2 linked regions of the Homo sapiens genome follow. The protein of the gene in region 2 purifies or fractionates together with the protein of the main gene of each other region. This does not show direct contact. Each region holds a gene or a part of one and is shown on either strand. Other genes may lie near its edges.

Region 1 (3,500 bases), on a different chromosome or scaffold from region 2:
GAGCCACTGCGCCCAGCCTTCTACAATAGTATTTCTAATCTGCTTGGTAGACTTGCTTAAGCACCCAGATACCACCAGGTAAACATTAAGAGGAAAAGAAAGAGCAACTCCAGGTATTAAAAAGGGGGACCAGGAATTTAAACAAGGGACAAGAAAAACTCTCATGAGAGCAAATTCCCCAGTACTTCATGAAATGAACACATGGATTTCATACTACAATAATAGAAATTCCTATTCTTATGCAGCAACGGTATTTTAGAAGTAGGGCTCTAAATTTCACATGATACTGGCAGCCTTTTTCTTTCTTTCTTTCTTTCTTTTTTTTTGCTTAAAAAATCAGTTTGCTGCTTTATTTATTTATTTTTGAGGCAGGGTCTCATTGCACTTGCTGGAGTGCAGTAGTGCAATCTCGGCTCACTGCAACCTCTGCCTCCCAGGTTCCAGCAATTCTCCCACCTCAGCCTCCTGACTATCTGGGACTACAGGTGCATGCCACCACATCCGGCTAATCTTTGTATTTTTAGTAGGGACAGGGTTTCATCATGTTGGCCAGGTTGGTCTCGAATTCCTGGCCTTAAGTGATCCGCCAGCCTCAGCCTCCCAGAGTGCTGAGATTGCAAGGGTGAGCTGCCGCACTCAGCCTAGTTTGCTGCTTTCTTGAACAAACATTACAGAGCAATCTTCTCCCCAATATGATGTTCTTTTAATTTAAAAACCAATTCATAGGATATTGTCTCAAATAGGTAGAAACCAGATATAAAGATTTTTGAATGATGTGAACTTACAAATACAAATATATTGGCCGGGAGTGGTGGCTCACGCTTCTAAATCCCAGCTCTCTGGGAGGCCGAGGCAGGTGGATCACCTGAGGTCAGGAGTTCAAGACCAGCCTGGCCAACATGGTGAAATCTTGTCTCTACTAACACTACAAAAAAAAAAAAAAATAGCTGGGTGTGGTGGCACACGCCTGTGATCCCAGCTACTCAGGAGGCTGAGGTAGGAGAATCGCTTGAACCCAGGAGGTGGAGATTGCAGTGAGCCAAGTCGTGCCACTGCACTCCAGCCTGGGCTACACAGCAAGACTCAATCTCAAAAAAAGTAATAATAATAAAATAAAATAAAATAAATTAAAAATAAAATGTGCTCTATAAATAATTATAAAGAAATATAAAAGCACGTTTTCACATCCTTCAAAGATTAAAAAGAAGCAAACTCACTTTAAACAAGCAAAATAACAATACCAGTAAATGCAATTTTTCTTGAAAGATAAAAACATATAGTATTAAGTGGCATTTGCAGATGTAAGTTGAAGATGCTTCCAATTTGTGTTTACTATATATAAAAATTCCTAAAAATTAAGAAAGCATTAATGGTGGTTTCCCTGAGAAAATGGTTTAAAGGGATAGAGGGGAAAGACACACAGCTTTCTCCATATAATGTCTATATTGTGCTTTTCTCTTCTGTATTTTTTTTTTCTTTGAGACAGGGTCTCACTTTGTCACTCAGGCTGGAGTGCAGTGGCGTGATCTTGGCTCACTGTAGCCTCGACCTCCCGGGTTCAAGCTATCCTCCTGTCTCAACCCCTCCCAAGTAGCTGGGACTACAGGTGCCCAGCACCACATCCAACTAATTTTTGTATTTTTTTGTAGAGACAGGGTTTCACCATGCTGCCCAGGTTGGTCTTGAATTTCTGAGCTCAAGTGACCTGCCTGCCTCAGCTTCCCAAAGTCCTGGGATTATAGGCGTGAACCACCACACCCAGCCATATTCCAATAAAAATGAAAGCACATTTTGTCAATTAGTTTGAAGTGTTTTACGTACACTACATTTAGGGATATCTGTTTAATAATATCATGGGCTGGGCACAGTGGCTCATGCTTGTAATCCCAGCACTTTGGGAGGCCAAGGAGGCGGGTGGATCACCTGAGGTCGGGAAACCAGACTGACCAACATGCAGAAACCCCGTCTCTACTAAAAATATAAAATTAGCCAGGCATGGTGGCGCATGCCTGTAATCCCAGCTACTCAGGAGGCTGAGGCAGGAGAATCGCTTGAACCCGGGAGGTGCAGGGTGTAGTGGGCCGAGATCACGCCACTACACTCCAGCCTGGGCAACAAGAGTGAAACTCTGTCTCAAAAAAAAAAAAAAAGAAAAAGAAAAAAGAAACTTACGCATTACTTTAAGGCAACCATATAAAATTAGTGATACACAAAGTAGAAAGTTTTAAGATTTGTTTATGGGACTATGTAATTTCTGTATGTTCTTTTTTTTTTTTGAGACAGAGTCTTGCTCTGTTGCCCAGGCTGGAGGGCAATAGTGGCACAATCTCAGCTCACTGCAACCTCCGCCTCCTGGGTTCAAGTGATTCTCCTGCCTCAGCCTCCTAAGCAGTTGAGACTAGCGGCACCCACCACCACACCCATCTAATTTTTGTATTTTTAGTAGAGGTGGGTTTTCACCATGTTGGCCAGGCTGGTCTTGAACCCCTGACCTCAGGTGATCCACCTGCCTCGGCCTCCCAAAGTGCTGGAATTATAGGTGTGAGCCACTGTGCCCAGCCAATTTCTGTGTTTATTTTAGATTTTAAGTTCATTAAACAGAAATTGTGTCTACAATTTTTTTTGTTAAATAAATTGTAAAAGCTTAGGAATAACAATTATGAACAATTAAGAAAGGGATATAATAAAAAGTGTCTAAAAATACTGACTAGGGAGTTTCACTTAAAATAAGAAATACTAAAGCAATGACTACTAATAGTTTTATGTATATCCTTCCAGAAATACAGAGGCAAACATATATTATGTATATTTATAGACAGATAATATTTTCACTGATAAAGGATGCCTTTGAAATAAAAATCACCCCAACTGAGCATTTATTTCATATCTCAGAAACACCAAAGTCAGCCTGGGCAGCATAGGAAGACCCTGTCTCTACAAAAAAAAATAAAAAGAGTAGCTGGGCATGGTGGCTCGTGCTTATGGTCCTAGCTACCCAGGAACCTGAGGCAGGAGGATCGCTTGAGCCCACAAGTTCAATGCTGTAGTGAGCTATGATCATGCACTGTACTCCAGCCCGGGCAACAGAGCAAGACCACCTCTAAAACAAACAAACAAATAATAATACCAAAGGGATTCCCCTTTGGGTGGGTACAATGAGGTAAGGGATGTGACAATGCTAGTAATCGAAAAATGCAGAGCAGGGGGTGAGACTAAATCAACACAGCACACACAAAAGAACCTGAGTGGCATTTGCTTGTGAACTTGGGCAGCAATCGTCTTGACAAATGAAAAACAAGCCGGCCAGTACTACCCCCAACCGTCAAACTGAAATCTTTGAGTGTCAGGTGACCAAAGCTGCCTAACATGCCCAACCTATCTAGTCATTCGAGTCGCAGCTATGCCAACGGCTGCCCAAATGATAAGATCTGGCTTGGGCCTGGGTTCTTAACTGACAGTGACAATCGCCAAGATGGTAGGGGGCACTTTCCAGAGGATAA
Region 2 (3,500 bases):
ATTGTGAACATGATACCTGAAGGATTTAATCATCCTAGATCCCCAAGCTTGCATAAGCTCTTCTAGAGAGACACGTACCCAGTGCAAACCCCAGCACGTTCCACAAGGGCATCAGAACTGTTGGCCGGACCCTGAACGTAACCATCAACTCATTGAACTTTTTCAAATGGTCCTTTTCTTGATCCCACATTTTCTGCAAGAAACATAAAAATAAAGACATGCAAGCATTCCATAGAGGCCTCCCACTCATCCAAGCGGCATACAGGGAGCAAAGCAGAAACGGAGAAAATGATGGAACTGCTGTCTCCCCCATTCCCCTCAAAACGTCAATGGAAACAGTAAAACATCAGACTAAAGGAATCTGTGACAAAGAGAAGAGAGCACCAAGAATACAAAACAGTCTATTATCTCAATTCCAGTTAAGACTGCCATGAGCCATGGTTGCAGCAGAAGTCTCTCAGGCCCACAATGTGCCCAGTAAATGACAAGGGTCTACACACATAAGAAATGACATGTTTAACCCATTTCAAAATCAGGAAGGCAGAACATTGGCTGTTGTGTAATTTCCTTCCAGATTACTAGAATAGCATCATCTTGTTGTTGTTGTGGTTTGTTTGTTTCCAGACAGGGTCTCACTCTGTCACCCAGACTGTAGTGCAGTAGCAAGCTCATGGCTCACCGCAGCCTCAACCTCCAGGATCAAGCGATCCTCCCACCTCGGCCTCTCAAATTAGCTGGGATTACAGTCACATGCCACTACACCTGGCTAATTTTGTGGTGTGTGTGCGGTTTTTTTTGTTTTTTTGAGACGGAGTCTCACTCTGTTGCCCAGGCTGGAGTGCAGTGGTGCGATCTCAGCTCCCTGCAACCTCTGCCTCCCAGGTTCAAGTGATTCTCTTGCCTCAGCCTCCCAAGCAGCTGGGACTACAGGCATGCACCACCATGCCTGGCTGATTTGTTTTGTATTTTTAGTAGAGACAGGGTTTTGCCTTGTTGGCCAGGCTGATCTCAAACTCCTAACCTCAGGTGATCCACCCGCCACAGCTTCCCAAAGTGCTGGGATTACAGGTGTGAGCCATTGCACCCAGCTAATTTTTGTATTTTTCGTAGAGACGGAGTCTCATCACATTGCCCAAGCTGGTCTCAAACTCCTGGGCTCAAGCGATCCATTGGCCTCGGCCTCCCAAAGTGCTGGGATTACAGGCGTGAGCCACCACACCCGGCCCTGAATATTATTTACATCAGAGGAAAAAGGGAGAATGCTAGCTGCAGCTAACACTTAGATGGCACGTCCTAAGTGCCAGGGGCCATCAAATAGCTTCATGCAAGCAATTCATTCAATCCACACAATCCCTGTGAAGGACACACTATGACTGCGCCAGTATACACAACAAACTGAAGCACAGAGAGGCTAAGTAGCTTGCCCAAGGGTTCAGGGCAGGCCATTTAACTTGTACTAACTTGACCTTTATGGGCCAGACCCGGTTCCTTACCCAAACCCAGGCCATTATGAGGCCATTTTGCAGATACGGAAATGGAAACCCAGAGAAGTCCTGTGCCATCCTCAAGGTCGCACAGGTAGGAGGTGGGAGAGAGCCAAAATGTGAACCAGGTCTGTGTAACTACAAATTTCAGGTCCTCCCATAGCCTCTTGGGATACAATACCTCTCTGGCACGGTAGGGGGCAGGGCTGCAACATTTCAGCACAGTTGACTGCTGTGCTGAGCGATTCTTAACCTTTTTTCATTACTGCCTGCCCCCGCCATGGAGTACTGATACCAAAGATATACCGCATACCTGTCTATGTACTAGATGTCTCTCTGTGCTTTATCCATAAAAAGAACAATATGCTTTTTGCTCCCCATCTCCACCAAGAACCAACCTTCGCTCTCCTGGAGACAATGGCATCTCCCTAGGGAACGCTTGACCTCCCATGATTCATTACTTGAAGTCCTTTGGATCTGCCCATTCAGTAGACCAGGGTGAGGGAGATGAAGAAGCACCCACCTGAATGACTGGCCCGACGCTGGTCCGACCCAGGACAGCCATCTGCCCGGCATAGATGCGGTTTGCTCCATATTCGCCTGCATGATCCACCCGGATTATTCGATCCACAGCTGCCCGACTGATATTGTCTAAAGTCATTCCTGAACTGCGAAATCTGACACTGGTTCTTCTTCCATAAGCTGAAATGCAAGTGTTTATTCTTCGTTATGATCAGGTAAAATCCAGATGTTCCTTTTACAGACAGCAGAAAGGGCACTTTGGGATGGAGGTCACAAATCAGTTCCCCATGGGCCAGGCGTGCCCATAAACGGACTCTGTTTAACCTACAGTGTTAAAACAGAGGATTTTACCTAAAGATCTGGATTTCTGGTTTCACTTTAAGTGTATGAAGATCTGGAAATGCTGAGCCTACCTTCTTACCAGGCAGTTAACATGGCAACCGCTTCTAGATGAGCATGGTTCTCCAGTTCACCAACCCTCTGGCCCACTTCGCCCCAGCCCAGGCTGTACAGGAGAGGCCCATACAGAGCTTTCAAAAACACCGTGCTCTTCCCCAGTCAATCTCTGGGAGGGGGCTCTCTGAACTGATATTGTTTAGAAGCTCTGTGCATAAGTCTTCTCTTCAGCCAAGGCTGAGAACCACAGACTAAGTTCTCTTAAAATCCACACCTGTCCGGGCGCGGTGGCTCATGCCTGTAATCCTAACACTTTGGGAAGCCAAGGAGAATGGATCACCTGAGGTCAGGAGTTTGAGACCAGCCTCGCCAACATGGTGAAACCCCATCTCTACCAAAAATACAAAATTTAGCTGGGTGTGTTGGCGTGTGCCTTTAATCCCACCTCCTCGGGAGGCTGAGGCAGGAGAATAGCTTGAAACCGGGAGGCAGAGATTGCCGTGAGCCAAGATCGTGCCACTGCACTCCAGCCTGGGCAACAGAGTGAGACTCTGTCTAAAAACAAAAACAAACAAACAAACAAAAACAGAAAAAAAAATTAAAAACCCCACACCGTTGGGCATTCGATTTTGAGACTAGCCTTGGAGCCTAGATTTCACTTCATTATGCTCCAAAATCAATTCAAATGAACTCTCATCTTCAAAATGTAAATTCTTCATGACAGATTATATTTTATCTTTAAAAATAAATCTCCTAACCTTAACACCTTAATTATATTCTCTGAGCCTTATATTAGAGTAACTCAAAAGGTTTTTTTCCCTGCCAGAGAGGAGTTTTGCAGCATTCTTAGGTGTGTAAGGTGTATTCACCTCATTTTGCAGATACGGAAAATAGTGACCTAAGGGTCATTTAGTTTGTAATGGTAGCTTCGATCTGCACTGGTATCACTTTTTTTTTTTTTTGAGACAGACTCTGACTGTATCGCCCAGGCTGGAGACAGAGGTGCGATCTTGGCTCACCGCAAACTCCACCTTTCAGACTCAGGCAATTCTCCTTTTTCAGCCTCTAGAGCAGCTAGGACTCCAGAGTAGCTAGGAC

The links. The genes of interacting proteins can lie anywhere in the genome.
Region 1: the proteins of COQ7 (region 2) and NIPSNAP2 purify together in Homo sapiens (co-immunoprecipitation; one large-scale study listed by IntAct). This does not show direct contact.

Annotation. Positions count from the first base shown.
Region 1 is NC_000007.14:55,971,085-55,974,584, reverse strand, and holds part of NIPSNAP2 (protein NipSnap homolog 2), read right to left. Parts: intron 1-3,500. UniProt on the Homo sapiens protein: Protein involved in mitophagy by facilitating recruitment of the autophagy machinery required for clearance of damaged mitochondria.
Region 2 is NC_000016.10:19,070,614-19,074,113, reverse strand, and holds part of COQ7 (NADPH-dependent 3-demethoxyubiquinone 3-hydroxylase, mitochondrial), read right to left. Parts: intron 2,187-3,500; coding exon 2,008-2,186; intron 194-2,007; coding exon 79-193; exon of another isoform or gene 17-78; intron 1-16. UniProt on the Homo sapiens protein: Catalyzes the hydroxylation of the 5-methoxy-2-methyl-3-(all-trans-polyprenyl)benzoquinone at the C6 position and participates in the biosynthesis of ubiquinone.